Regions from separate parts of the Homo sapiens genome. Here all the other regions are linked to region 1. Evidence: fine-mapped expression QTL. A gene starts in region 1. Each other region holds a variant in brackets. All regions are shown on one strand. Distances are between the middles of the regions. Region 1 holds the start of GPX4 (glutathione peroxidase 4). Region 2 overlaps ARID3A (AT-rich interaction domain 3A). Region 3 overlaps ARID3A (AT-rich interaction domain 3A).

Region 1 (9,470 bases):
GGCGGGCCGGGGACCAGGGGGAAACCGGCAGATGGCGGCGACCCAGGCGGGGATCGGGGGCTCCCGAGACCCTGAGAGGAGGCGGGAGATCTCAGGGCACCTGGGGAGCCTGCGGGCCCCTGGGACCCGCCTGAGCCGAGACGACCCGTCTCGTCCGCAGGAACCGGCACTGCCGGCTGGCGCAGGAGGGTAAGGACTGCCTGCAGGGGCTGCGGCTGCGGCACCACTACATGCTGTGCGGCGCGCTGCTGCGCGTGTGGGGCCGCATCGCCGCCGTCATGGCCGACGTCAGCAGCAGCAGCTACCTGCAGATCGTGCGGCTGAAGACCAAGGACAGGAAGAAGCAAGTGGGTGAGTGGGCGGCGGGCGCCCCGGGAAGGCCCGAGCCCCCAGCGCCGGCCCTGACCCCGACGCTCTGCCCGCAGGCATCAAGATCCCCGAGGGCTGCGTGCGCCGGGTGCTGCAGGAGCTGCGGCTGATGGATGCGGACGTGAAGCGCAGGCAGGCGCCCGCCCTGGGCTGCCCCGCCCCGCCCGCCCCGCGCCCGCTGGCGCTGCCTTGCGGCCCCGGAGAGGTGCTGGACCTCACCTACAGCCCCCCGGCCGAGGCCTTCCCGCCGCCCCCGCACTTCTCTTTCCCGGCGCCGCTGTCCCTGGACGCCGGCCCCGGCGTCGTGCCGCTGGGCACCCCCGACGCCCAGGCCGACCCTGCGGCCCTCGCGCACCAGGGCTGCGACATCAACTTCAAGGAGGTGCTGGAGGACATGCTGCGCTCGCTGCACGCGGGGCCGCCCTCCGAGGGCGCGCTGGGGGAGGGCGCGGGGGCGGGGGGCGCGGCGGGCGGTGGTCCCGAGCGGCAGAGCGTGATCCAGTTCAGCCCACCCTTCCCCGGCGCCCAGGCTCCTCTCTGACACGCCTTTAGGCGAAACATGCCCCAAGACACAGGGACCGTTTCTCCCCTAGGAGCAGCGGTGGGGAGCAGGGCCAAGGTCCCCTGACCACTGCTCAGAGGAGCCCTAGGCCCTGGCCGCAGTGCCTTCAGCGCCCGACCCGGGCCCCCACCTGGTCAGCCCTGGCGGGGCCCACTCAGGACAGCTGGGGGCCGGGGCGTGGCAGGGCCCTCTCTGTGCCTCTCCTCCCAAGTAGGAAGGGGCTCCGGGTGGCTGCTCTGGGACTGGGCACCCACAAGGGCTCAGTGGGCCCAAACCCTTGAAATCCGTGAAACCGGGTGGTCCCAAGAGCTAGAAACTCAGGAAACCCCAGGTGCTCAGGGCCCCGCGTCTCGGGGGCTCCGTGGGGCAGACCCCTGCTAATATATGCAATTCTCCCTCCCCCAGCCCTTCCCTGACCCCTAAGTTATTGCCCGCTCACCTCTCCCAGGCCCCAGGCCGCGGAGCTGGCAGGGTGGCGCCTGCGGTTTCTATGTATTTATAGCAAGTTCTGATGTACATATGTAAAGGACTTTTTTAAATATATGTGCCTTTTGCCTACTTCCCACGGAGTCTGCTCCTCAGCCTGTGGGACAGGGAGGGAAGGGCAGGGGTGTGTGGGCATCCCCCCAGGCTCTCCTGGTTACCAGGCCTTTCTGCCCACTGCCTGTGCTGGCCCCATGTGGATGAGAGGGGACGAGGGCTGGGAGAGACAGACCTCTCAACCCAGTGTCTGGGGCAGGTGCCATGGACCGTCCATTCCACAGACCCCCAGTGGGGGCAGCTGGGATCAGCCACCCTGGCAGGCTGCAGTCCCTCTAGCTGTGCAGGTGGGCAGCCAGGCCGTGTCCAGACAGCCCCCGGGTCCCATGAACGGTGGCTGGTACTGCTCTACCAGCCCCTCCTGGCCTGTCCATCCCCAGCCCTCACGGAGGGACTCTGTGCAAACAGTAACCACCCAGCCACCCCCACACCCCCCAGCCAGGTGAGGCCCCAAGGGCCGGTGTGGGTGCCCAACCCATCCCCAGCACCAGGGCCACGCTGTTCCTCGGGCCTCTGCACTTCTGCTTCCTGGCCAGGGGAGGCCCCAGTAGCCACCTCCTAACAGTTAAGGCCCGGGGCCAGGAAGCACAGCCACTTAGAATTATCTCCTCCAAGACTCGGCACTACACCAGGCCCTGCCTGTGCACAGCAGGTGGGGCTGCACGGATTAAGAGCCAGGGCTGGGTGTCCAACGGGCCCAGATCTCACTGCACCCCAGCACTGCAGCCAGCACAGCCCCCCGAGCCTGGAGGAAGAGGGGGCAACAACACGCCACCTCCATGGCACCCCCAGCCTGGCAGCTGACGGCAACTGGCCCTGACATGGAGGGGCCCCTGGCAAAAGGGCCCCCCAAGCCCCTACGCAGAAAGATCCAGCAGGCTAATTTGTCTGTTTATTCCCACAAGGTAGCCAGGGGTGGGGGCGCCGAGCCAAGCCCAGCAGGCCATGGGACCTTCCTCCGGCGGGGTGCACGCTGGATTTTCGGGTCTGCCCCACCAGCAGGTTTGCAGGCAGGCCGTCATGAGTGCCGGTGGAAGGCTCCAAGGGCGTGGGCAGGGGCTCGGGCGGGGCCACACACTTGTGGAGCTAGAAATAGTGGGGCAGGTCCTTCTCTATCACCTGTCGGGGAGGAAAGCTGGGTTAGGGCAGCTACCTCCCAAGCCCCCGAGCCTCAAGCGGGCTCCCTAGAGAGGACCTACCAGGGGCTCCTCCATGGGTCCGTAGCGCTTCACCACGCAGCCGTTCTTGTCGATGAGGAACTGTGGAGAGACGGTGTCCAAACTGTGGGGCCACCCCTGCAAGGGGCTGAGGCTGCCCTTCCTGTCCGCTGCCCATCTGGGCCACGGCTGTGGCCAGGGGAAGCTGGTCCCCTACCCCCCACAGCCCCCTTACCTTGGTGAAGTTCCACTTGATGGCACTGGAAAAGAAGCACATGGACGTGAGCGTCCCCAGCAGCCCCCCACAGTCCCCAAGCTGTCCTGTCTCCAGGAGGCCACAAGGGTGTGAGCTTCCCCGGCTGCCTCCACAGCCACAGTGCCCCCAAGCCCCCCCAGAGCCATCTTACCCCAGGAGGCCATGCAGTGTGAGAGTCCCAACAGCCCCCCACAGGCCCCCGAGCCATCCTGTCCCCAGGAGGCCACAAAGGTGTGGGCATCCCTGGCTGCCTCCACAGCCCTCTATGTCCCCCTGAGCCATCTTACCCCCAGGAGGCCACGCGATGTGAGAGTCCCAGCACCTCCCCGCAACCGCCCCCCGAGCCATGAGCCATTCTGCCCCAGGGAGGTGTGAGCATCCCAGCAGCCCCCCCACCCCCACCCCAGCAGCCGTACTGTCCCCAGAGGTCACGCACTTTCCCAGGATGCCCTTGCCCTTGGGTTGGATCTTCATCCACTTCCACAGCGGGTGGGCGTCGTCCCCGTTCACGCAGATCTTGCTGAACATATCGAATTTGACGTTGTAGCCCGCGGCGAACTCTTTGATCTCTTCGTTACTCCCTGGCTCCTGTGGCGGCCAAGGTGTGTGAGTGAGTCGGGGGCTGGCACCCCCTCAGTCCGGGCCCCCTGCACACTCCCAGGCCCTCTCCAGGCTGGAGCCCACCCCGACCCCCACCCACCCGCCTCTGCGGGCCCCGGGGACGCAGCAGCCCACCTGCTTCCCGAACTGGTTACACGGGAAGGCCAGGATCCGCAAACCACACTCAGCGTATCGGGCGTGCAGGTCGACGAGCTGAGTGTAGTTTACTTCGGTCTTGCCTCACTGGGAGGCCACGTTGGTGACGATGCACACGAAGCCCCTGCGAGGATCGGCGGCGTCAGCGCAGAAGAACACGGCCCCCTCCCAGGGCCCGACCCCGCGCCCCACCCCAGGCGAGCGCCCACCGGTACTTGTCCAGGTTAACCATGTGCCCGTCGATGTCCTTGGCGGAAAACTCGTGCATGGAGCGCGCACAGCGCCAGTCGTCCCGGGACGCGCACTGCAAGGCAAAGGAAGCTGAGCAGGGAGCGTGGACGGGAGGCTGAGCCCGGGACCCTGAGGCAGGAAGGGATCGGGAGCGGGTCGGTGGCGGGGACACCGAGGCCCTGCGGCCCTGAAGACCTGAACGCTCCTCCTCCTTAAACGCACACGCCCCCTTGTACTTCTGGTCCGGTTTTACCGGAGACCCGGAGGCCGGGAGAGGGTTCCAACCCCAAAATGTGCCACATTAGCCGGTGTGGGGGCCCCGCGCGCACCGGGTCCTGGGACTTGGGACATTCGTGGATCTCCGGTCGCAAGCTGCGGGGACAGGGCTTCTTCCGCCGGCGCCGCGCCCTCCTGCGCCTGCACGCTGGGGCCTTCCGCCGCCGAGGGGCTCGCGGCCGCCGCCTGCCCCGGCTCTGGCACCGCTGCCTGCGGCGCCCGGGGGAGCCTGCGCCCGCGCGGCCCATACCCGCCCGTCTCCCGCCCCTCCTGGCTCCCCCACCCCGAGCGCCGCTAGCGGGGACAAAGGGCCCGGAGGCCGTAGTCAGGACTGCGCGACTGTGACGCCACCGCGCTAGGCCAAGGTGCGGGGGCGGGGCGGCGCCCGGGGGCGCGTGATCCGGGATTTCCAGCCCTCCGCGCCCCCAACCGCTCGGGCGCAGCAGCCCCGCTCGGCCCGGAGACGCCCCGCCGTGGCCCTCAACGGTCCAGCTCCGCCCCAGCCGTCCCGGACCCCGCCCCCTGCAAGCCTGGACCCCCGACCCCGGCCCCGGCACGCGCGCCTGCAACGGCCTGGACGGCCCCTTCCCCGACCACGACCCGCGCGCGTGGAACAACCCCTTCCCCTTCCCCGACCCCAGCCCGCGCGCCTACAACGGCCTGGAGGGCCGCGGAGCGCGTCGCAGTACGGTCACCCGCGTCCGTGCCCGGCCGGGGGTGGGGAGGGGGAGCCCCCAGACGCCCCCCACCAAGGTCACTGGAGCCTGAGGGTTCCCCACGCCGGCGAGCGGAGGCAGGGATCGCGCGCCCGCCCCAACGGTCACCGGGCCGGCAACGGCCGCGGCGCTAGCTCACCATGGTCCCGGCCAGGCCAGGCGCGGCCAGAGCCCCACAGAGCAGCGCCGGCTTCAGTAGGCGGCAAAGGCGGCCGAGGCTCATCGCGGCGGGGCTGGGAGCCAGCGGCTCCTCCCCTCGTCCAGCCGACCAATGGACGCGCGTCGGCTTTCCGCGCCTCCTTTCCCACGGCCACGCCCTCCAGAGCGCTCATTGGTCAGACGCGTCGGTGTTGAGCGCTCGCGCCGACGTCAGCCAATGGGAGGCCGGAGTGGGAAGAAGGCGGGGAAGGGGGGGCGGGACCGGACGTGCGGACTTGTTGTTGGCGACTGCGCATGCTCGCTTGTGTCTAGGAGGCCGTGGCCTGGCTGGCGGCGCGTCGGGAGGCAGCGCAGTTATCCGGCTGGTTGACAGCAGCGCGGCCGCAGGCCAGACAACCTGAGAATACTACTTAAGACTCGTCGAGGGGGTTTGGTTTCTCCAACTCGCAGAAAAGTGTCCCCAACTCTTATTTACCTTTTTTTTTTTAAGACACGGGGTCTTGCTGTGTTGCCCAGGCTAACGTGCAGTGGCACGATCAGGGCACACTGCAGCCTCGACCTCCCAGGCTCAAGCGAACCTCCCGTCTCTGCTTCCCGAGTAGCTGGGACAACAGGCTCATCCACCATTCCTGGCTAATTATTGTTTTGTAGACATGGGGGTCTCGCTATGTTGCCTAGGCTGGTCTCAAACTTCTGACCTCAAGTGATCCTCCAGCCTCAGCTTCCCAAAAGTGCTGGGATCACATGCGTGAGCCAAAGGCTCGGCCGGGATTTGCCTTTTTTTTTTTTTTTTTTCCGAGACACAGTTTTTTTGCTCTTTTGCCCAGGCTGGAGTGCAGTGGCGCTATCTCAGCTCACTGCAACCTCCACCCAGCCCCCGGGTTCAAGCGATTCTCCTGACTCAGCCTCCTGAGTAGCTGGGATTACACGAGCGAGCCACCACACCCAGCTAATTTTTTTGTATTTTTAGTAGAGACGGGGTTTCACCATGTTGGCCAGGCTGATCTCGAACTCCTGACCTCAGGTGATCTGCCCGCCTAGGCCTCCCAGAGTGCTGGGATTACAGGTGTGAGCCACCGCATCCGGCCAAGGGATTTGCCTTTTTAATGTAAATGAAACCAAACTGAGTTGGGTTTGCTTCTCATCACAGCTCCATCTTATGGGGGTGTCCCTACCCTCACCCCTGCCATGGGCGCAGGGGGTCAGTGACTCCCCATCCTGGGTCTGGTTGCTGAGCCGCTTGTATAATGTGGGCACTGAGACCTGAGAGTCATCAAGACAGTTACCACTTAACTGAGAACCTGGAGTTTCCTGGGCTCCCACCCCCAGGGGCAGCTGCCCACGCAGGGACGCGCGGTATGTGCTCAGAAAATAAACACAAGTCTGGAGGGTTTTCTTACACTTCTAACATTACAAGGTATGGGCACACCCGAGCCCATACTGCCCCACATCTTGGCTTCCAACTCTGTTTTTCACTTCGTGGCTTGGACATGTGGCAACAGAAACACTCATCTCATACTTGGGAACTGAGTCACCGTGATTGGACTTTGACCCCTGTACAGGCAGGGGTTTGGATTTTTTTTTTTTTTTTTGAGGAGTCTTGGTCTGTCACCCAGGCTGGAGTGCAGTGGCTCCATCGCAGCTCACTGCAACCTCCGCTTTCCGGGTTCAAGTGATTCTCCTGCCTCAGTCTCCTGAGTAGCTGGGATTACAGGCATGTGCTACCACGCCCAGCTAATTTTTGTGTTTTTAGTAGATACGGGCTTTCACCATGTTGGTCAGGCTGGTCTCGAACTCCCGACCTCAGGTGATCCGCCTGCCTCGGCCTCCCAAAGTGCTGGGATTACAGGTGTGAGCCACTCTACCCCGCCTAGGTGCTTGGGATTTGTATGTTGTCCTCAAGGTCTTAACCTTTTCTGACCCTGCACTGAGTATTTCTTCAGAGACAGACTCAGGGCCGGGTTGACTTGGGGGGTGCTATGAGCCTGCCCCCGCCACTGCCCCCGACTCAGGCCTGCCAGATGCAGCACAGAGGCGTCATGGATGGTTTGGTGGCAGAGGCAGTGAAGCAAGGATCCCTGAGCAGGGCTGGCCGAATCCTGGTCTTGCATAAGTCTGTTCACATGGCTTTGCTCCCGCCCAGCCCCTAGAGGCTGAGTTCTTGGAGTCAACTCCCATTGTCTGACTTCTCAGGAAACCCCCCCATTTCCTCCCGCCCTGGCAGTGCCGGGTGACAGGGCCACACTGGTGACTCTGTTCTTGCCCTTGCGAAGGCTCAGCTGTTCGCAATTTTGCCGGTGTTGTTTTCCTTAAGTTTGTTGCAAACATGTGCACTGAAATGGGAGTTTATTTCAGGGTTGCCAGAAAAACAGCTCAGCACCCACAGCTCCGCGGAGAGACTTGATCCCATTCCTGACTTCCTGCCAATTGTGATAAAGTCAGAAGTGGGGAAAACACGGGGTCGCGACCTCGGATCTGAGAACGGGGCCCCAGGCTCTGGGAGAGATTTGTGCTGGGGGCTTCACAGCTTTTCCCAGAGTGTCCCCATTTCACGAACGGGGAAATGGAGTCTCGGGGACCTCTCAAGGCTCCAGCCCTGTGAGGGCGGAAGTTCTTGAGTGTCCCTGCAGGAAGCTGTGTTGCCACATATCTTTCTAGAGCAGCCCCTGGCTCCAGGAAGGACTGGGGAGGGGCTGTCCTGTGGCTTCATTTCTTTTTTAAGATCTTTTTGGCCAGGCATGGTGGCTCACACCTGTAATCCCAGCACTTTGGGAGGCTGAGACGGGCAGATCACGAGGTCAGGAGATCGAGACCATCCTGGCTAACACGGTGAAACCCCGTCTCTACTAAAATTACAAAAAATTAGCCAGGTGTGGTCGAGGGCTCCTGTAGTCCCAGCTACTACTCGGGAGGCTGAGGCAGGAGAATGGTGTGAACCCGGTAGGCGGAGCTTGCAGTGAGCCGAGATCGCACCACCGCACTCCAGCCTGGGCAAGAGAGCGAGACTCTCCGTCTCAAAAAAAACTTTTTGGCTGGGTGCGGTGGCTCACATCTGTAATCCCAGCACTTTGGGAGGCCGAAGCAGGCGGATCACCTGAGGTTAGGAGTTTGAGGCCAGCCTGGCCAACATAGGGAAACTGTCTCTACTAAAAGTACAAAAATTAGGGCCAGGCATAATGGCTCACGCCTGTAATCCCAGCACTTTGGGAGGCCAAGGCGGGTGGATCACGAGGTCAGGAGTTCAAGACCAGCCTGACCAACATGGGGAAACCCCATCTCCACTAAAAATACAAAAATTAGCTGGGAGTGGTGCCGTGCTCCTGTAATCCCAGCTACTCAGGAGGCTGAGGCAGGAGAATTGCTTGAACCCTGGAGGTGGAGGTTGCAGTGAGCCGAGTTCGTGTCACTGCACTCCAGCCTGGGGGGATACAGCAAGACTCTGTCTCAAAAAAAAAAAAAGTTTTTGAAATTCAAACAAAATACATATGAAATTCAACATTTTAACACTTCAAAGTGTACAATTCAGTGTTTTTAGGACGTGTACAATGTTATGAGACCATCACCTCTATCTATCTAGTTCCAGAATTTTTTTTTTCTCTTGAGACAGAATTTCGCTCTTGTTGCCCAGGCTGGAGTGCAGTGGCACGATCTCAGCTCACTGCACTGCCACCTCCCAGGTTCAAGCGATTCTCCTGCCTCAGCCTCCCAAGTAGCTGGGATTACAGGCGTGCGCCACCACACCCAGTTAGTTTTGTATTTTTAGTAGAGACAGGGTTTCTCCATGTTGGTCAGGCTGGTCTCAAACTCCCGACCTCAGGTGATCCGCCTGCCTAGGCCTCCCAAAGTGCTGGGATTACAGGCGTGAGCCACCGCACCCAGCACAGAGTATTTTCATTGTCCCCAAAGGAAGCCCAGACCCCATCAGCCTTCACTCTCCATCTCCTCCCCTAGGACCTGGCACACACACATCCCCTCCTGTCTCTGTGGATTGGCCTGTCCTGGACATTTCATGGAAATGGGATCACACACTGCGTGTTCTTTTGTGCCTGGCTTCTCTCACTGAGCATGAGGTCCTCAGGCTACATCCACATTGTGGCCTGTGTCAGAGCCTCATCATTCCTTTTCATGGCTCAGAAATATTCCAGTGTGTGGAGGGATCACATTGTGTTTATTTATTCATCTGTGGATGGACATCTGGGGTTTTTTTTTTTGAGACAGAGTCTCACTCTGTTACCCAGGCTGGAGTGCAGTGGCGCAATCTCAGGTCACTGCAACCTCCGCCTCCCAGGTTCAAGCAATTCTCCTTTCTCAGCCTCCTGAATAGCTGAGATTACAGGCATGCGCCACCATGCCCGGCTATGGGCTGTTTTCTCTTTTTGAGTTTGTAAAGCCGTACAAGTGTTTGTGTGGGCGTATGTTTTCATTTCTCTTGGGTGTATGCCTAGGAG
Region 2 (10,604 bases), 160 kb after region 1:
CACCTGGACGCCGGGCCCCTGCCTCCGCGAGCCTCATTTTTCCCTGCTGAGAAATGGGCTCGGAGTAACCGCAGGGTCCAAGCACTTTGCCCAGAGCTGGGCACTCAGCAATTAACTCCGTCCTGGGGTTCCCTGCAGACGGGACCTGGACGGTCCCAGAAAGCCTCAGAAGTGTCATGCCCAGCAGGAGTGTCCATTTGGAAAGAGGCACCTGGTGGGAGACTGCGGTCCCATCACTCCCAGCCCAGGTTCTCTGAACAGAAACGCAGCCCAGCACCAGCAGCAGGAGCCGGGCAGTGCAAGGGGCCAGAACACGCCTGCCCCGGCCATGTCGACGCCGTCCCCACAATGGGACACGGGCCTGCCTGGAGTCCGGGCCCAAAGACGGCTGCAGGAAGGAAGGGGCTGCTTCCACCTCCCACCCTAGAGTCAAGAGGAAGGGCCCTCCCTGGTGGGCTCAGGGTCCGGGGTCCCTTGGGGTACACCTGGCCGGAGCTTCTGCCAGACCCCAGGCTGAGGGCAGGACAGGAACTGCCCCTACCATGGGCAGCAGCCTCGGAGGAGTCACTCAAGGCTCTGCCCGCTCCAGGGACACCCCACCATCCCACCCGCTGCAGGGAGCAGACGGAGGTGGGCTGGGGCCGCCCTGGACACCTCCCCGCTAGGGAGCAGACGGAGGTGGGCTGGGTCAGGCAGCAGGGGCCATGCCACACGCCGTCCCCTCTCTACAGGAGTTACAGGAGAAACCTGGTGAACCGTAAAGGCCAAGGATGAAAACAAAGTCACAAGAGCTGCACTCCTTCTGATACCATCCCCGTCTTACGGGCGGGGAAACTGAGGCCGAGAGGAGGAGGTCACAGGCACCAGGCCCAGGTCGGGCAGAGCTGGGATCTCTGCATGTTGGTGTGCCCAGGCTCTCTCCCCCCAGGTGGCATTAAAGCAATGAATAACCACAGAGGTGATCTGTCTAGTTCTTCCCCAAGAACCAGGTCCAAGGGCCCCCACGAGATGGGCATGTGGCCAACTGAGGGGTGGGGGCAGTGGCTGGGCAGGGCGCCAGCTAGGGCAGAGACGCCCAGCCACTCCCGGAAAAATGGCCGTCAGGGAAGAATTACAGGGCGACGTGGTGGAAGGGACGGGGCGGGTGGCAGAGACAGGGAGAGGGGAGAGGAGAAAGAAGAGATGGAGACAGAGAGCGACCGCAGGACCCAGGGACATCCCGGCTCCCCTAAGAGCTCAGGAGTTCAGCCTGGGCAACGCAGCAAGACCCTGTCTCCAAAAAATAAAATGAAGTTAGCCGGGTGTGGTGGCGAGTGTCTGTGGTCCCAGCTACTCAGGAGGCTGACACGGGAAGATCACCGGAGCCCGGGAGGTCGAGGCTGCAGTGAGCTATGACTGCACCGCGGCACTCCAGCCTGGGTGACAGCACGAGACCCTGTCTCAAAATCCACCCCCGAAAACCAGACAATGAAGGAGGTTCAGCCAGGCTGGCAGTCGGGCCCTCCCAGGGCCGGGGTCGGGGGTCCTGGGTGGGGGACGCTCACTTGCCCGGAAGACCCACATTTGTAGCAGTGAGCGTGGTGCCCCTGAGATGGGTCAAGGTTTGGGGGCATCGACCGAAGCAACGGGGCTGAGGCCGTGGCAGACACAAACCATGGCCGTGTGGGACCGCCCCCACCGACACTCCTACCCAGACAGGCCTCCGTGCAGCCACACAGCCAGACACTCCCACGCAGACACACACACACACACACACACACCCCCTGGACGCGCCCCTGCAGCCAGACACACGGGGAGCAGACACGCCTGGGAGATAACGGCGAGACAGGCCCGCCCTCCACCGCGCTGCCGACGTCAGGACTCCAGTGCCGGCGGCAGGAGCTTCTGCTTCATGCACGGCTGTGTCCCCAGTACGCAGGCAGGCTGGCATACAGCAGGTGCCCCGTAAGTGCCCATGAGAGGGTCAGGCTGGCATACAGCAGGTACCCTGTAGGTGCCCATGAGAGGGTCGGGCTGGCATACAGATGCCCCGTAAGTGCCCATGAGAGGGTCAGGCTGGCATACAACAGGTGCCCCATAAGTGCCCATGAGAGGGTCGGGCTGGCATACAGCAGGTGCCCCGTAAGTGCCCATGAGAGGGTCGGGCTGGCATACAGCAGGTGCCCCGTAAGTGCCCATGAGAGGGTCGGGCTGGCATACAGCAGGTGCTCCGTAAGTGCCCATGAAAGGGTCGGGCTCAGACACATGTGTGCCCAGGGAGGCACAGCCTGGTGTTTCTGCCCTAACCTTGCCCAGGGCACGGTGCCACGTCAGCAGAGGTTTCTTCTCTCCACAAGTCTGACATCAGCGTGTCACTGGGGCTCCAGGGGAGGGTCCTTCCCTCCTCTCCCAGCTTCTGGGGGCTCCAGGTGTCCTTGGCTTGTGGCCACATCGCTCCAGCCTCTGCCTCTGTCTCCACACAGCTATCTCCCTACGTGTCCGTGTCCAAATTTCTCTTTTTTCTTTTCTTTTTTTTTTTGAGACAGAGTCTCGCTCTGTCACCCAGGCTGGAGTGTAGTGGTGCGATCTCAGCTCACTGCAGCCTCCGCCTCCTGGGTTCAAACAATTCTCCTGCCTCAGCTTCCCAAGTAGCTGGGATTACAGGCACCCGCCACCACGCCCGGCTAATTTTGTATTTTTAGTAGAGACGGGGTTTCACCATGTTGGTCAGGCTGGTCTCAAACTTCTGACCACAGGTGATCCGCCCTCCTCGGCCTCCCAAAGTGCTGGGATTACAGGCATGAGACACTGCGCGCCCGTCCTTTTTTTTTTTTTTTTCTTTTTTTGACACAGGGTCCTGCCCTGTCGCCCAGTCTGGAGTGCAGTCGTGCCACTATAGCTCACTACAGCCTCGACTTCCTGGGCTCAAGCAATCCTCCTGCCTTAGCCTCCAGAGTAGCTGGGACCACAGGCACGCACCACCACACCCAGCTAATTTGTGTAGAGACAGGGGTCTCACTCTGTTGCTGAGGCTGGTCTCAAGCTCCTGGGCTCAAGCGAAACTCCCGTCTTGGCCTTCCAAAGCGCGGGGATCACAGGTGTGACCTCCCCCTTAGAGGACAACCGACCGGCATGGGATTTGGGGCCACCGTACGCTGCAGGACCTCACTGAAACTAACATCTTCAGAGACCCTATTTCCAAATGCAGTCCCATCTTGAGGTTCTGGGTGGACGTGAGTTTTGGGCGATGCCATCCAATCCAGACGGGGCTCCTCCCGGAAGGCGGGTTCTTACTTGCTCTCACGTTCTCCGTCTCTGAGGGTGGCAGAGGAGGCTGCTGGGCATGGAATCTGGGCACTATGTCCAGCGTGGCTTCTGGACATGGGGCCTGGGTCCCCAGGGAGCTCACTTCCTGAGCCTGGCCAGAACCAGGGCCTGCGGGGCAGTGGGAGGGGCGGCCTCCACCTACTCCCTGCCCACCCACCTGTGCCCACGGACCCCCAGCCCAGCCCTGACCAAGGGGCAAGGCTGCATATCCCGGCGCTTGGGCCTTCAATGGCCAGATTAGTCAGCGTTTAACCCTGTGACCCCCAATTGTCCTCTGGCCATGTGCAGCCGGCAGAGCGGAGAAGAGGCGGTCCGCACCCGCCCCCCGTGTGCCACCCACCAGGTCGGCACCGCAGCGGCTCCCGGCCCGGCTCCCGGCGGCCAGTGGAGAGGACCTTGAGTCAAGCGTCCCTCGTGGGTGACGCCCCTGGGTGCCACCGCCGGGCAGCTGCGGGGGCCATGTCGCCACCGCCCCAGTCAGGATCGACAGTCAGGTAATTTGGGCCATCGAAGGGACCTGGACTTCAGCCCTTTGTGTCCAGCAGGGAAACTGAGGCAAGAGTGGACAGGGCTCTGCCGGCAGCTCCTCGGGGTCGGAGAGGGTGGGGGTGCACCCCCAGCGGCCCTGTCCATAGCTCGGTGGCCACTGGGGCTCCATCATCGGCTAGGCTGGCTCCAGAGCCCATGGCGGGCAGGGGAGGCGCTGATCTGTGCCCCGCGGCCGACGCGCGCTGCTGACCAAGACAGACAGCGCCACTCTCTAGCAGCCCCGGGGGTCTAATGGTTAATAGGCCCCACCGCGACCTCATGCTTCAGGGTCCAGCACGAGGCTCCCAAATGCTCAGGCACACAGGAAGGTCGTCTGTCACGGGCACACGTGCGCACACGTGGCGAGCCCAAGCAGGCACGCTTTTGGACACACACTCTCCAGCCTCGACGTGCACACACACATACGCTTGCAGCCACCCCTGACACACACACACACACACACACACACACAGCCACATCCACACAAAACACAAGAGACCAGTCCGGCACAGCAGCTCACGCCTGTAATCCCAGCACTTTCAGAGACCGAGGCGGGAGGATCACTTGAGCCCAGGAGTTTGAGACCAGGCTGGGCAACATGATGGCAAGACCCCATCTTTATAGTTAAAAAAATGCACACACAGGAGATCATCACCCCAACATAGACATTCACAAAGGACGTCAGGGCAGACACACGTCTGGACACACTCACCAACAGGTCCACGCAAAACAGGGACGTGGGAAGTTTGCCACGTCACTCGGCACACAGAGACCTAAACGAACACCGTGGTGCTGGCTGGGGACACGCAGGCGGGCGCGTGAGGTGCCGCTGGCTGGGTGCACACAGCCCCACACACGAGACCCACAGAATCCAGCAGGTGCCCGGTGGGCAGAGGCCTTGGAGGGTCCGAAGATGCTGTGTCTGGAGCAAGATTCCCTCCCAGGCAGGGTCCCACGAGACAGGACCCACGAGCCGCCCGGCCACAGCCCCAGCGTGCACACTCGCACGCACGCCACGGCGGCTCACCACGCCCATTCCCCCGCCCAGGCACCACGC[G/A]GGGACACTCTCTGCCTGCGGGCACCGCTCCCTCGGGCTGCCGCGTGTGTTATTAGAAAGCATGGGGCGGGGCCGGCGCTTGGCAGCAGCCACCAGGGTGGGACGCCGGCGGTGGGCGTGGGGCCAGGCCGCGGCGGCGGTGACCCCGCGGCGGTGACCCGACGGCCAGGCGGTGGCGCAGGGGCCAGATAAGGCTCTTCCGGCTGAGTCAGCGACGCTCCTGGCACGGGCACGGGCCGGGGCACAGTGCCAGGGGCTGGCGGGCACCCACCCACCCCTCGCCCGCCAGGGCCCAGCTGGCCCGGCGCCAGCAGCCACAGTGGCTTTGATGAGGCGGGCGCTGCCCCGGTGGGGAGGACCAGGTGCCCAGGGGGCTTCCCGACAGCCCTCCCGGCGGCTCACGTGCAGCCGGGGCTCCCGGAGGCCCAGGAAGACGCCGGCACCAGGGCTGGCGGCCGAGGGCCTGGCTCGGGGCTCTCTTGACAAACACACTCTGTCTCAAACACAGCCGCTGCCTCTGTGTGCTCGGAACCTGCTGCCTGACCTCTGGGCAAAGGCCCCAGCTGCACCATCTGCCTAGAGCACCCGCCTGTGCTGGGAAAATTCTCCTCCTTCTCCTTCTTCTCAGGCCCCAGAAGCCCAGCTGCAGTGTTGGCCTCTTCTACTCCTGCCTGGACCAAGGGTGCCTCCGTTCTGTCTCCAAAACAGGCTCCAGAAGGGTCCTCCCAGCCTCCTTCTCCCAGCTCCAAACCCTGCCAAGTGCCCTCAAGCTCTGCCCACCCCTCCTGCTACACCGAGAGCTTGACTGACCCGCGGCCCAGGACGGCTGTAAATGCGGCCCAGTGCAAACGCGTACATTTCTTAGCGCACGATGAGAGTTTTTTTGCAATTTTTTTTGGCTCATCAGGTATCATTAGTGTTACTGTATTTTACATGTGGTCCAAGACAATTCTTCTTCTTCCAATGTAGCCCAGGGAAGCCAAAAAGTTGGCCACCCTGGCCCCACACATTACGCTCCAGTCACAGTGATCCCAGAGGCAGGCCCTGCCCTGCTGTGGCTCGCTAACAAACTCTTACACATCCTGCAAAGCCCCAGCCCCAATGCCCCTTCCTCTTGGCAGCCTCCCCCTCAATCCCCTCTAGCCCAGCCCTGACCCCTCGAGGGATGTGGGGAAGCCCAGCAGCGCCCCTAAGCCTCAGTCTGAAATGGACGTGGCGAGGCCACGGCAGACCCCAGTGCTACCTTCACATCCAGCTCTGTCTCCCACCAGTCTGGGGGTCTCCGGGGCACGACGAAGAAAACGTGTTGCCGATTCTCCCAGAGCCCTGGCAATTCCAGCTCCCCACCTCCTCCCCACACTGCTCCAAGCAACTCTCACGCCCCGAAGATGTTCGTTACAGTATTGCTTACAACAGGGAAATGACCGAGGGAAGTGTGTGGACGTGGGGGTGTCCAGCGCCACGAGGGGAACGTCCATACAGCTGAAAAGAACCAGGTGGCTCGGAACATCCCAATTACGACGCGAACGCACCCAAGATAAACAGCTCCTCGAAGGCAGCGGCGGGAGGAACCTCCCGACCTGCCCGGAAGATCACACGTTAGATACCTCCCAGGTCACATTCCTGGGTGTGAGTGGGCAGAGAAAGGCCTGGAGAACATGCGGCTCATGCCCTAGAGGTCAAGGGAGGGACTCGGGGCTCCCTGTAAACGTTCCATTTTCTTCCTCTCTGCAAGAAGAGTGTCAAGTGTTACTTCTGGAACCAAAAGTGTATCGAGAGGCCGGGCGCGGTGGCTCAGGCCTGTCATCCCAGCACTCTGGGAGGCCGAGGCGGGCAGATCACGAGGTCAGGAATACGAGACCACCCTGGGCAACATGGTGAAACCCCGTCTCTACTAAAAATACAAAAATAAGCTGGGTGTGGTGGTGGGCGCCTGTAGTCCCAGCTACTCTGGAGGCTGAGGCAGGAGAATTGCTTGAACCCGAGAGGCGGAGGTTGCAGTGAGCCGAGATGGCGCCACTGCATTCCAGGCTGGTGACAGAGCAAGACTCCGTCTAAAATAATAATAATAAATAAATAAATAAATAAATAAATAAATAGGCCAGGTGTGGTGGCACGCGCCTGTAGTCACAGCTATTTGGGAGGCTGAGGCAGGAGAATGACTTGAACCCAGTAAGCAGAGGTTGCAGTGAGCTGAGATTGCACCATTGCACTGCAGCCTGGGTGACAAAACAAGACTCCGTCTCAAAAAAAAAAAAAAAAAAGAGAGATAAAATAATGTATCTATGTGTATTTTCCACAATTAAAAAAAACAAATGAGCTGAAAAGACCAAAAAAAGACCAAAAACCGGATGCCCGTTTCTTGCTGGGGTCTCGCTTCACTCCCGAGAGCTGCCTGGCAGGCACCGTGGTGAGGACCCAGCGGTCTCTGGGGCTGGGCCCAGCGAGGTGTGTCTGGCCTTGAGCCTGAGAGGCTGCTGGTGGCCGTCCCTGCCCCAGTGCCCACACACGCCCAGCTGTCAGGCCCGGAGGCCTGGATATGAGGACAGCACTGAGGTCTGGCCTGGTCTAACCACTTTCATTCCAGACAAAAAGAAAAACGGAGGGGCAGCTGAGCTTCCCCAAAACCGTCCCACCAGCAGCTCCCTGGGCCATCCATCCACACACCGCTGGGTCCTCTCTGGCAGGTGCATCCCGGGGGTCAAATTCCAGCTCTGACACGTCCCCCGGGCGACTGTGCACAAGTCATGTGATCACCCCATGCCTCAGTTTCTCGTCTGCACAACAGGTTCAACGGCAGCTCCTTGGGATCCAGTGAGGATCTGGGAGACGACCCATCTAAAACACTCAGTCACTTTCTTCACGCAGTGAAGCAACAGATACCGGCTAGTGCCGTCATTCCTACACCTCTGAGCTCATCTGCAAGTTACATGGGCAGCAAGCTTTACTTTGGAAAGCAGAGGGAGAGATCCTGACACTGAATGAAAATCAGAACCACAGTGAGAAACCACGCCACCCCCACAAGGAGGCTAGGATCAAAAGTCGACAACAGGCCGGGCGCGGTGGCTCACGTCTGTGATCCCAGCACTCTGGGACGCTGAGGTGTGAGGATCACCTGAGGTTGGGAGTTCAAGACCACCCTGCCCAACACGGTGAAACCCCGTCTCTACTAAAAATACAAAAAATTAGCCGGGCGCAGTGGCTCACACCTGTAATCTCAGCACTTTGGGAGGCCGAGGCGGGCGGATCACGAGGTCAAGAGATCGAGACCATCCTGGCTAACACGGTGAAACCCCATCTCTACTAAAAAATACAAAAAAATTAGCTGGGCGTGGTGGCAGGTGCCTGTAGTCCCAGCTACTCGGGAGGCTGAGGCAGGAGAATGGCGTGAACCCGGGAGGTGGAGGTTGCAGTGAGCCGAGATCGCCCCATTGCACTCCAGCCTGGGTGACAGAGCAAGACTCTGTCTCAAAAAAAAAAAAAAAAAAAAAAAAAGTCGACAATAACAAGTGGTGAGGATGTAGAGGAACTGGAACCCACATCTGTGGCTGGTGGGAAGGTAACGTGGGCAGCTGCTTGCTAAACAGTCTAGCAGTTCCTCTGATGGGTGAATATGGAGTCACCAGCAGACCCAGCAATTCTCCCAGATACACACCCAAAAGTAATACAAACGTACGCCCACATAAAAACGTGTACAGCACTACAAACCCAAAAGGCAGAAACAGGTCGAGTGGTCACCAACAGCGGAACGGGCAAACACAATACGGCACATCCATCCAGCGGAGTATGACTCAGCCGTGAAAAGGAAGGAGACTCCGACCCAGGCCACGGTGCTGATGCACCTGGAGGACGTCACGCTCAGTGAGATACGCCAGACACAAAAGGCCACGCAGTGTGTGATCCCATTTCTTTTCTTTGTTCTTGTTTTTCTGAGATGGAGTCTCCCTCTGTTGCCCAGGCTGGAGTGCAGTGGCGCGATCTCGGCTCACGGCAATCTCCGCCTCCCGGGTTCAAGCGGTTCTGTCTCAACCTCCCGAGTGCTGGGATTATAGGTGCCCGCCACCACACCCAGCTAATTTTTGTATTTTTAGTAAAGACAGGGTTTTGCTGTGTTGGCCAGGCTGGTCTCAAACTCCTGACCTCAGGTGCTCTGCCCACCTCAGCCTCCCAAAGTACAGGGATTACAGGCGTGAAGCACTGCACCCAGCTATGTGATCCCATTTCTATAAAATGTCCAGAACAGGCCAATCCACAGAGGCAGGAGGGGATGTGTGGTTGCCAGGGGCTGGGGCGTGCTGGTAGAATAGGGGGATAATAGTTAAAGGGTCAGGGTTTATTTTATTTTATTTATTTAGAGACAGAATCTCTCTCTGCCACACAGGCTGGAGTGCAGTGGCATGATCTCGGCTCACTGTAACCTCTGCTTCTGAGTTCAAGTGATTCCCCTGCCTCAGCCTCCCAAGTAGCTGGGACTACAGGCGCGTGCTGCCACGCCCGGCTAATTTTTTATATTTTTAGTAGAGACAGGGTTTCACCGTGTTAGCCAGGATGGTCTCGATCTCCTGACCTCGTGATCCGCCTGCCCCGGCCTCCCAAAGTGCTGGGATTGCAGACGTGAGCCACTGCACCCACCCTATCCTTCTTATTTTTTCGAGACAGGGTCTCGCTCTGTCACCAAGCTGGAGTGTGGTGGCGCGATCACGGCTCACTGCAGCCTTGTCCTCCTGGGCTCAAGGGATCCTCCCACCTCAGGGTCCCAAGTAGCTGGGACTACAGGTGTGCGCCACCACACTCAGCTAATTTTTGTAGAGATGGGGTCTTGCTATACCGCCCAGGCTGGTGTAGAACTCCTGGGCTCAGGCTATCTGCCCATCTCGGCCTCCCACAGTGCCGGGATCACAGGTGTGAGCCACTGTGCCTGGCCCCAATCGTACAATTAAAACAGTGAATTGTATGGCATATGAAGTATAGCCCAATAAAGCTGTTTTTTAAGATTCATCTCAAATTCATTCAACACTTATTAGAATTGTTGAGACTAAAGGTTCAAATCCTTAAGCAGCTGAAGATCTGTGATTAACCGCCTGTGCGTGTAAAATCCCATCACGGGCCGGGCGCGGTGGCTCACGCCTTTAATCCCAGCGCTTTGGGAGGCCGAGGCAGGCGGATCACAAGGTCAGGAGATCGAGACCATCCTGGCTAACACGGTGAAACCTTGTCTCTACTAAAAATACAAAAAATTAGCCGGGCGCGGTGGCGGATGCCTGTAGTCCCAGCTACTCGGGAGGCTGAGGCAGGAGAATGGCGTGAACCCGGGAGGTAGAGCTTGCAGTGAGCCGCGATCGCGCCACTGTACTCCAGCCTGGGCGACAGAGCGAGACTCCGTCTCAAAAAATAAATAAACAAATATATAAATAAAATCCTACCATGGTGGGGTGCGGTGGCTCACGCCTGTAATCCCAGCACTTTGGGAGGCCAAGGAGGGCAGATCACCTGAGCCCAGGAGTTCTAGACCAGCCTGGGCAACATAGCAAGACCCCGTCTCTACAAAAATTAGCTGAGTTTGGTGGCGCCCGTCTGTACTCGCAGCTACTCAGGAGGCTGAGGCAGAAGGATCGCTTGAACCCAGGAGATCGAGGCTGCAGTGAGTTAGGACAGCACCACTACACTCCAGCCTACCCGACAGAGTAAGACCCTGCCTCAAAAATAATAATAA
Region 3 (10,604 bases), 130 kb after region 1:
TGGAAGTTTTTAAATTCCCGGGTTCCAGGACACCCAGCAGACCGGGCAGGTGTGGGCTGCTGCCACAGGCAGGAGAGGGCAGGGGCAGCAGGAAGTCGATGGACTACAGTCTCCACCTTCTCACAGGCCTCCTGCTGCGGCCCAGCCCGAGCCAGGCCTTCCTCCCCTCCTCCCCTCCCTGGGGACGTGGCCAGGCCAGGCTGCAGTGTGAGGTCAGAGGTCACCCCGCCCCCAGCCTGGTTCCTGGAATGAGGACAGACTAATCGTGTTGGAGCAGGGGACAGAAGCCACACTTTGGGGGCATCTCCAGACCACCCAGCGGCCGGATCTCGTTGGTGCCAGCTGGAGGTTGTGAAGGGGGGGTAACCAGGAAGGGGAAACTGAGGCACAGAGGCAGGAACGTTCCCCTCGGGGTGTAAGGCCCTCATTCTCCATCCCCTGCACATTTATGGAGCACCGCCAGTTTGCAGGCACTGATGAACCCAGCCAGACCCCAGTCGGCTTGGCTGCCCCGGTCCTGGCCCCACAGACCCAGCAGCTGCGGCCGTCCCGCGGCAGCCCCATCATTACCTATGCCAGTGGGGAGAGCAGCAGCCGGCTCTGGTAGCCCTCTGCTTTTGGAAGCGTCTCAGCCGCCGCCTCTCCAGTCTGGACTCTTGGCTGGCTCCGAAAATCGGCTATCAGAGGAGGGTTTGAGCTTCACCTCCGGGAGCCTCCCGCCCTCCTAGCAAGCACCTAGCAGGCGGCCCAGGGAGGTGGCTGGGCTCTGAGAGGCTAGGGGGTGGCTGGGCCCTTCCTGGGCTGGGGAGGAGGTGAGGGGCTGAGTCCATCCCTGGCTGGGGAGGGAGGTGGGGGCCTGGGGAGGAGGTGGGGGGCTGAGTCCCTCCTTGGCTGGGGAGGGAGGTGGGGGCCTGGGGAGGAGGTGGGGGGCTGAGTCCCTCCTTGGCTGGGGAGGGAGGTGGGGGCCTGGGGAGGAGGTGGGGGGCTGAGTCCCTCCTTGGCTGGGGAGGGAGGTGGGGGCCTGGGGAGGAGGTGGGGGGCTGAGTCCCTCCCTGGCTGGGGAGAGGTGGGGGCCTGGGGAGGAGGTGGGGGGCTGAGTCCCTCCCTGGCTGGGGAGAGCTGGGGGCTGAGTCCCTCCCTCCCAGGCTGGGGAACTCAGAGGTGCACCCCCTCCCTGACTCCCCGCCTCTGAGGCCCTCAGCTGCGGGTGAACAAGCAGGGCCTGACGATCCAGTTTGGGGTGGGGGCTTTCCCAGGGTTCTTCCCTCCTCTCCCTGGGGCCGGCGGGCTCCTCCAGGCAGTGAGTGGGACTCCATCTCCGGGACGCAGGGTTTGGCAGACTCATTTCTGGCTGGAATGGAAAATGCCATTTTCCCTTCCGGGGCCAGGGTCTAACGTGGGTTTCAGGAACCAACCGGCTGGGACAGGTGTGGGGGTGTTGTTGGTCCCTCGCCTCCAACACAGCCCTGGGGAGGGACGTGTCCCGGCCAGCCTCGGCCAGGATGGTGCGCGGGAGGCCGGGCAGCTGAGTCTGGGCCTGTCCACCTCCAGCCACGCTGACCCTCCTCCAGTCACGTCCCCTGGGCGTGGGCAATGGGAGGGTGGACAGTGGGTTAGGCGGCCCAGGAAACCCTTTCCTGGGAAAACGTTGCAATACCACTTTCTTTGGGTTTGTGGGCTAAGAACGAGAGGCCTTTTATTTTTTAATTTTTAATTAATTAATTAGTTAATGTTTTTAGAGACGGAGTCTCGCTCTATCACCCAGGCTGGAGTGCAGTGGCGTGATCTCGACTCACTGCAAGCTCCGCCTCTGGGTTCATGCCATTCCCCTGCCTCAGCCTCCCTGAGTAGCTGGGACTACAGGCGCCCGCCACTACGCCCAGCTAATTTCTTGTATTTTTAGTAGAGACGGGGTTTCACCATATTGGCCAGGCTGGTCTCGATCTCCTGACCTCGTGATCCACCCGCCTCGGCCTCCCAAAGGGCTGGGATTACAGGCATGAGCCACCACGCCCGGCCTAATTAATGTTTTTAGAGATGGAGTCTTGCTCTGTCACCCAGGCTGGAGTGCAGTGGGTTGATCTCAGCTCACTGCAACCTCTGCCTCCCAGATTCTAGCAATTCTCCTGCCTCAGCCTCCCAAGAAGCTGGGACTACAGGTGCACACCACCACGCCCAGCTAATTTTTTTTATTTTAGTAGAGACAGGGTTTTGCCATGTTGCCCAGACCGGTCTCGAACTCCCGAGCTCAGGCAATCCACCCACCTTGGCCTCCCAAAGTGCTAGGATTACAGGCGTAAGCCACCGTGCCCGGCCTTTTATTATTATTTTTAAGAGACAGGGTCCCGGCTGGCCCTGTGTGGCCAAGGTGGGTGTTATCATTTGAGGTCAGGAGTTCGAGACCAGCCTGGCCAACATGGTGAAAACCCAACCCGTTGCTACTAAAAGCACAAAAATTAGCCAGGCGTGGTGCCGCGTGCCTGTAATCCCAGCTACCTGGGAGGTTGAGTTGGGAGAATCGCTTGAACCCAGGAGGCAGAGGTTGTAATGAGCCAAGATTGTGCCATTGCACTCCAGCCTGGTTGACACAGTGAGACCCTGATTCAAAAAAAAAAAAAAAAGGGGCCAGGCACAGTGGCTCATGCCTGTAATCCCAGCACTTTAGGAGGCCAAGGCAGGCAAATCACGAGGTCAGGATATCGAGGCCATCCTGGCCAACATGGTGGAACCCCATCTCTACTAAAAATACAAAAATTAGCCGGGTGTGGTGGCGGGCGCCTATACTCCCAGCTACTCGGGAGGCTGAGGCAGGAGAATTGCTTGAACCTGGGAGGCAGAGGTTGGAGTGAGCCGAGAATGCACCACTGCACCCCAGCCTGGGAGAAAGAGCGAGACTTCGTCTCAAAAAAAAAAAAGAGAGAGAGAGAGACAGGGTCTTGCTGTTGCCCAGGCTGGAGTACAATGGCATGATCACTGTTCACCGCAGCCACCATGCCCGGCTTTTTTTTTTTTTTTTAATTTCTGGTAGAAATGGGGTCTCCCTATGTTGCCCAGGCTGGTCTCAAACTCCTGGGCTCTATCCATCCTCCCGCTCCAGCCTCCGAGTGTTGGGATTACGGGTGTGAACCTCTGACCCCAGCTGAGTCCCTTTACTATGTTCTGGGTTTGGGGGCTGCAAACTGGCTGTCCAGGGGCCAAATCTGGCCCTTGGTCTTGTTTCCTAGGACCCGAATGGTGTTGTAAGGGAAAAGGTGAAAATGTGGCCAGCACTGGAAAAGTTCCCTCCCCCAGCCACCAGGACGCCCCTGAACCCCAGAGGCCTCAGCTCCAGGCGGCTTCACCAGTGGGCTGGTTCCTGGGCTCGCCTAGGAGGTGAAGGAGGGCAAACTTATGGGGGGCTCGGGAACAGGGTGTCCCGCTCGGCACAAGGGCCTCCATCTGGGCCGCACAGAGGGCGGAGGAGCGGGGAGCCCCGTGCCTCCCACCCGAGGGGCCGCACCCTCCTGTCATGGGCAGGCGGGGACTGTGTGTCGGCTGCAGAGGATGGAAAGGAGTCTGTCAGAGCAAAGGGGGAGAGGGCTGTTCCCGGCGGTGGAACAGCTGTGTGAAGGCCCTGAGGCCGGACCGGGCCACTTGCCCTGGGAGCTCCGGTCGGATAACGCCAGGGGCGCCCGCATGCAGAGCCCTGTTGAGGCAGGAGGCGAGGGGTCAGGCTCGTGGGCAGGTGGCTGGGGGTGCGCACACTGGCCCTGCCACACCTGTCATCCCAAATCCCTAAAACGGGATTGGTGTCGGGCTCTCAGCGAGGCACAGAGGTGCCCAGAGCGGCCTCCAGGAGCTCCCCTCGGCCCTGTGGACCTTGCGGTTGGATCCTTCTCTGGGGTGGGGACGTCCTGGGCACTCAGGGTGCCGAGCAGCGTCCCTGGACTTCACCCACTCCATGTCAGGAGCTCCCCCCAGATGGGACAACCACAGATGTCCCCAGACATGGACCAGGGTCCCCTGGGGGCGGAATCACCCTGGTTAAGGCCCTCTGGGTTAGGGGATTCCATGGACCCCCTACAGACTCTGCATCCCATGATCCTCGGCCCTGCTGGGGTCCCAGGAGGCTGCACACACTGAAATCCATGCCCTGAGTAGGGAGGGAGAGAGGAGGCGAGTCCCAGGAGCTGGGTTCCCCCGGGTTTACACCGTCTGCCCTGTCAGGAGCTTATCCTGGTGTCTGCTGTGGGCAGGGAGAACTGTTTTTACCCCACCTTAAATAATGAAGGCAGAATTTCCCAACTCCTGCAGTGTGGATGCTGGGCGCCAGATTGTTCTCTGCGGTGGGGCCGTCCTGGGCACTCAGGGTGCCGAGCAGCATCCCAGGACTCCACCCACTCCACACCAGGAGCGCCCCCCCAGGCGTGACAACCACAAATGCCCCCAGACATGGACCAGGGTCCCCCTGGGGGCACAGACCCTGGCTGAGGACCCCTGCTTTTTTTTTTTTTTTTTTTTTTGATGGAGTTTCCCTCTTGTCGCCGAGGCTGGAGTGCAGTGGCGCAATCTCGGCTCACTGCAACCTCCGCCTCCTGGGTTCAAGTAATTCTCCTGCCTCAGCCTCCGGAGTAGCTGGGATTACAGGCACGCGCCACCACGCCCGGATAATTTTGTATTTTTAGTAGAGATGGGGTTTCACCATGTTGGTCAGGCTGGTCTCAAACTCCCGAACTCAGGTGATTCCGCCCTCCTAGACCTCCCAAAGTGCTGGGATAACAGGCGTGAGCCACCGCACCTGGCCAGACCCCCGCTTTTGTAGCTGTCTCTGCCGCCCGGAACCAGACCTAGAGCGATGCAGGGCAGAGGGGGATAGAGCACCCCCTTCCACTCACCCCTGGCTGTGCTGGGCAGGGGTGTAGGGTGGAGCTGGAGGTTGGGGAGACGCCAAAAGAAAAAAAACACCACAGGACACTTTTCTGTTAAAAGTCAGAAGTGTTTTGTCTCGTTTTAATATCTCATCAGCTTTACAGGGTTACAATCGTCTTAAATATTTCTGAAGTTTAAATACAATCTGCATAATAATGTTACTATAAAATGTAAACTTTCAGTGTTCTTTTAAATTTCAAAATCACACTTTTTTTTTTTTTTGGTCTTTTTGTCTTTTTTTTTTTTTTTCCTTTTAATACCTGAATGTTCTGCGAAAACTGAAATTGTTACAGGCCACCCTGCCGCGGCCAGGGCGAGACAGGCTGGGCCCAGCCAGAGGTAGAGAGTAGTTTTATGTTTTTTAAAAATTTTTTTAAGTTTTTTTTTTTTTCCTCCTATTACCTGAGTTTCAGGCGTGGTTCCCACGCCGTCTGACAAACTCCAGAGAAACTGAAATTTCACACGTCATGAATGAAAGGCTGAGTTTACATTTGCCAAGGAAAAAAATGCAAAAGCACAATTGGGGAAAAAAGGGACAAGGTGGGTAAAACATGATAAGAGAAAGGAAATTCAACTGTACAGATGCGTGACCCTTAAC[A/G]ACGACCCCAGCTGCCCCCCGTGCCCCGTGCCCACCCTCCCGCCTTTCTGGACAGCCACTTACGGGTCCCACGGAAGGTTCCAGAAGCCGCCTTTCTCCCAACATCTCAGAGCAGGGGGAGCCCCCGTTGGCCTTGACTGTGGGGCACCCACTCAGTACGCAGCCAGGCCCCACGGTCCCAAGTGAACTAGAACCCATCCAGGGTCCTCGTGGCTGAGGGGACTGCCCGACCCCCTCCCAGTCTGCATAAGGGGGGGTGCTGAGCTGCACCCCAGAAAGCCACACCGAATTTAAACCCCCACCGACAGGCGGTGGCAGGAGATGGGCACGGCTGGGGTTGAACGGGGCCACCTGAGGCAGGGAGGAGCCTCTGCAGACACGGCTTCCTGCCGAGTATCCAGGACCGGGCCCCATAGACCCTCTGCAACCGCCTCCCATTTCCACGGCCAGCATGGCCACTGCCTTCAGCGACTTCCTTCTCCTGGGCCGGGACCCAGCCTCGCGCCCACCCCCCACCCACCCCGCCTGTCCCTACAATCATCGGAGTTAACAGCAGGCTCAAGTCCTCTGAGTTAGAATCCAGGTCCACCCACCGCCGGGAGGCCGGATCGCCCACAGACACGACACGCAGGATTCCCGACACACACACGCAGCCCGAGGGAGACGACCCAGCCCTCGACCCTGCACGGCCCCTCCCCAGGCTCCGAGGTGGGCAGGTGCACGGGGGCCCCAGGGGTCCAGGGCCGCCAGATGCAGCAGGCAGCCAGGCCCCAGTGGCTGCTGCAGACCCTGGTGCACGGGAGGCGGGGGAGAGGCACCCCAGGGGCTCAGATTTTGGCATCAAAAGTCAGACCTGAGGTAGACAGAGATAGGCAGCAGGCGCTTCCCCCGGCGCGGGGCCCAGGCGTGGGACGGGGGTCCCGGGAGAGGAGCCCTGGAGGCCGGGGGACAGACACGGACAGAGTCCAGGTGGTTCTGCGAGTGGGGCCCGATTGTGTCTGGAGGCAAACAGACACCCCCTTCCCGGGGTGATTGTGCTGCTACGGTGCTGGCCCCAGGAAGGGACAAGGAAAACCTAGACGCCCACCACCCCCTCCTGGAAAGGGGGTGTGTGTCCACGGCCCTGAGATCCGAGAAGGAAGTGGGGGTCCCCTCCCCAAAGACACAGGAAAGTGACAGTCCCCTCCCACAGCCCGACGGGAAAGTGAACCTAGACTCAGGGGCTCAGAAGCCCCCCAGCCCCCTCCCCAGGGGTCTCCAAGGCAATGGGGAGGTGGTTGGGAGTGGGGGGAGCTGGGGAGTCCCCTTCCTCACCAAGCCCCCATGCCGGTGGCCTAACAGGGCTCCCAGGGCCCAATTAGAGACCCAGGCTTACCCTGGGAATAGCTGAGTTAATCCCCACTGCACCCCAAGAGAAATGAAAGCCCAGAGCTCCCGTGTAGGACACGACAGCCCCGCCCAACACCACGCGGGTCCAACGAAGTCCCCAGACCCTGCTGGGCATTTCAGACCCAGCCTTTCTGCTCCAGCAGCTCCAGCCAAAATAACCCCCCAGCTCAGCTGCGGTGACCCCACTTTCTCCAAGCCAGGGGGAGGGGTACTGACCCACAGGGTGGTGGGGGGCAGCCTCCCTTCTCGGCCTCGATTTAGTCACCGCAGAACTCGGGGAGCTCGCAGCCCCAGCACAAAAGGGGTTGGGAGAAGAGGAAGGGACAGAGCGAGGAGAATGTTGGGGTGTGGGGGGTGTTCAGGATGCCGGGGCCCTGAAATCCTCACCCTGAGTGAGGTCCGGCTTCACCCCCACTCCCCAGTATTGATAGTCCTCAAAAGCAGCCCTTTCGGGCAAGAGAAGAATCCCAATGAGACGCCACATTCATCCCTGAGACAGGAGCCTGGGGGCTTCGACAAGAACCACCCCCGCCCCCCAGGCCCTTTTTCCAGCACTTGCTACTTTTTAGATAAGATTTCCAGACCGGGCCAGCGTGGCGGCTCATGCCTGTAATCCCAGCACTTTGGGAGGCCAAGGCGGGCAGATCACCTGAGGTCAGGAGTTCGAGATCAGCCTGACCAACATGGCAAAACCCCCATCTCTACTAAAAATACAAAAATTAACTGGGCGTGGTGGCGGGCGCCTGTAATCCCAGCTACTCCGGAGGCTGAGGCAGGAGAATCGCTTGCACCTGGGAGGTGCAGGTTGCAGTGAGCCAAGATCGCACCATTGCACTCACTCCAGCCTGGGCGACAAGAGCAAAACTCCGTCTCAAAAAAAAAAAAAAAAAAAAATTTCCAGGCCCCTGACTCGAGAGCCCAGCAGACAAGCACGGCACAAGCAAAAGCATCGTGGAATATCACAGTCAGCAATTCACTGTCAGGGGCCCCTGGCCGGTGGGACCCCAGCATGCACCCTCTGCCCCAGCCCGGCCCATAGCACCTGAGTTCATTGGCTCCGCGGCTCTAGCCCCAGGGATCCGATGTGCTGGGCTCACAGCTGCCCAACGCACCCCCAGAAATGGACAAAGGGACCCAAATTGGTCATGGGAAAAATAAAAAGGTGAGTTTTTTTTTTTTTTTTTTTTTTTTTTTTTTGCTTTTTTTTCTTGCTTTTTCAAGACCAGTTTCCCTGAAGGAACACAAATATATAGCTATATAGATATATAGATATCCTTTTCCTAAGGTTTGATCCCCCCAAGAATAAAATAGAATATTTACACAACAAAACCCCCGAAACCTCTTAAAAACCCTACAGAGAAAAAAAAATTTCCCAAAGCAACAAGAAAAAAACAAAAATTCAGTGATCTTGGTTCAGGGGTTTCACTGGACACGAGAAGCTGGGAGTGGTGAGTGTGTGGTGAATAGAAAATAAAAGAGAACTAAAGCAGACAAAAATGAAAACACACAGTGCAGGGATGTATGAGGTAAACAGGATCGGCCCACACTGCTGTGGGGCCAAACCAGACACCAGAGCCTTCGGTCCATCAGGGCTGCCTGAACGCCCTGGGAAACGTCTGCCTCTTTCTGTTTTTCTGATGGATTTCTTTGCTGTTCTCACAATTCATCTCTCTGAATGTCCAAAACCTGAGAAATTCAAGTGTTCCTTGGTTTTCCCCTGTTTTATTAAATTCTCTTTATATATATACGTGTATATATATATATATATATATATATCTTTTTTCTTTTCTTTTTGGCGTCAGCTGTGGCTCCTTTCTGGATATCTTCCCTCCCCACCCGTATCTTCCGCCATCCTGGCCCCTGTGTGGCCCACCTGGACCCCCTGCCCAGGCCGGCGGGCTCCAGGGTGGGTGGCGGGTGGGGAGTGATGCGGTTAAGGCAACGAGTTATTTGAGGTAGATGTGGAGGGTGTGGACAGCCCCGCTGGCCCAGCCTGGCCGCCGCTGGTTCCGGTGTTTCCTCCCCGGCCGCCTGCGTTGCTGCTGCTGCCGCCGCCGCCGCCGCCTCCTTTGTTGGGAGCAGAGGTTGGCGTGGGGGCCGGCGGCTGAGCAAACAGAACTCCTAAGGCAAGAACAGAAGACATATGCCATGCAGAGTTTAAGAAGATGCGAGGCGGGCCACAAGGGAGACCCAATGGGGTGCTCCGGGGAATAAACTTCTCTCTCACTCTGTCCCCCAGGCTAGAGTGCAGTGGTGGCATCAGAGCTCACTGCAGCCTCAACCTCATGGGCTCAAGTGATCCTCCCAGCTCAGCCTCCCGAGTAGCTGAGACCACAGGGGCGTGCCACCATGTCTGGCTAATTTTTTATTTTTTTGTTTTTTTTTGAGATGGTGTCTCGCTCTGTCGCGCAGGCTGGAGTGCAGTGGTGCGATATTGGCTCACTGCAACCTCCACCTCCTGGGTTCAAGCAGTTTTCCTGTCTCACCCTCCTGAGTAGCTGGGACTAACTACAGGCGCCTGCCACTACACCAGCCAATTTTTTATTTTTAGTACAGACGGAGTTTCACCATGTTGGCCAGGCTGGTCTCCAACTCCTGACCTCAGGTGATCCACCCACCTTGGCCTCCCAGAGTGCTGGGATGACAGGCATGAGCCACTGTGGCTGGCAATATTTTAGCAATTTTTTATTTTTTGTAGAGATGGGCTCTCAATATGTTGCCCAGGCTGGTCTCAAGTTCCTGGCCTAAAACAATCCTCCTGCCTCTGACTCCCAAAGTGCTGGGATTACAGACGTGAGCCCAGCTTAAACTTCCCCACTGTGTCTGCTCACTCCTTCATCACACACATGTGCATATATATGGATGCACGTGAGCACACACGTGTGTTTAATCCACACATGCACATCAGCGTGCACACAGCTCTTGCAGGGAGAACCCTGATGCCCATGGTTCGTTGATGTGGGGTTGCGAGACCCCTAGCACACAGTTGGCCTTCTCCCCTGTAAGATTCAATATGAATGTACACGTTTTACATCTGATTTCCGGAGGGCACGGACCCCTCAAAAATCCATTTGTGGACCTGTGAGGACACCACTGACCTTCAGCTCAGCCTCTGACCACAGCCGGGCGGGGGCCTGCAACAAGGCTGCTCTGTGTCGACAGCGCCACCTGGTGGCCACTATGAACCATCGGCCTGACTCCACTTTAAGAAAAACTATTCATTTACCGCCGGGTGTGGTGGCTAATGCCTGTAATCCCAGCACTTTGGGAGGCCAAGACCAGCAGATCACGAAGTCAGGAGTTCGAGACCAGCCTGACCAACATGGTGAAACCCCGTATCATCTAAAAATACAAAAATTAGCCGGGCCTGGTGGCATGCACCTGTAATCCCAGCTACTCAGGAGGCGGAGGTTGCAGGAGCTGAGATCATGCCATTGCACTCCAGCCTGGGCAACAGAGTGAGACTCTGTCTCAAAAAAAAAAAAAAAAAAAAAAAAAAAGAAAAACTATTCATTTACTTATGTTCTTTTGTAGAGATGGGGTCTTCTGTGTTGCCCAGGCTGGCCTCAAGCAAACCTCTCTCCTTAGCCTCCCAAAGTGTTGGGATTACAGGCGTGGGCCACTGCCCCTGGCACTGACTCCACTTTTTTAATTAAATTTTTTAATTCTTTTTTTTTTCTTCCTCTGAGACGAAGTCTTGCTCCATTGC

Evidence for each region.
Region 2: its variant is fine-mapped to the expression of GPX4 in spleen (GTEx, PIP 0.98).
Region 3: its variant is fine-mapped to the expression of GPX4 in ileum (CEDAR, PIP 0.95).

Annotation. Positions count from the first base shown.
Region 1 is chr19:1,099,660-1,109,129 of GRCh38, reverse strand. GPX4 (glutathione peroxidase 4) reads right to left here and starts at 5,136. Exons shown (of 7, transcript NM_002085.5): 1 at 5,003-5,136; 2 at 3,850-3,944; 3 at 3,620-3,764; 4 at 3,321-3,472; 5 at 2,864-2,888; 6 at 2,671-2,730; 7 at 2,351-2,590. The coding sequence starts at 5,086. The coding sequence ends at 2,558. It overlaps SBNO2 (strawberry notch homolog 2), which reads left to right. Exons shown (of 32, transcript NM_014963.3): 31 at 161-351; 32 at 426-1,492. The coding sequence ends at 910. RefSeq lists enhancers at 2,119-2,288, 1,834-2,710, 6,013-6,092, 6,113-6,162, 6,193-6,562 and 2 more and silencers at 4,301-5,320, 5,331-5,410, 8,699-8,836.
Region 2 is chr19:935,482-946,085 of GRCh38, reverse strand. All of the region lies in intron 3 of ARID3A (AT-rich interaction domain 3A), which reads right to left. Among named protein-coding and RNA genes, the nearest start is that of ARID3A, 15 kb to the right of the region's middle. RefSeq lists silencers at 4,910-5,189, 5,250-5,369. The variant G/A (reference allele first, on the strand shown) is at 4,892.
Region 3 is chr19:970,290-980,893 of GRCh38, reverse strand. ARID3A (AT-rich interaction domain 3A) reads right to left here. Exons shown (of 9, transcript NM_005224.3): 9 at 4,955-9,016. The coding sequence ends at 8,829. Among named protein-coding and RNA genes, the nearest start is that of WDR18, 8.8 kb to the left of the region's middle. RefSeq lists a cis regulatory region at 210-223 and enhancers at 144-288, 239-829. The variant A/G (reference allele first, on the strand shown) is at 5,507.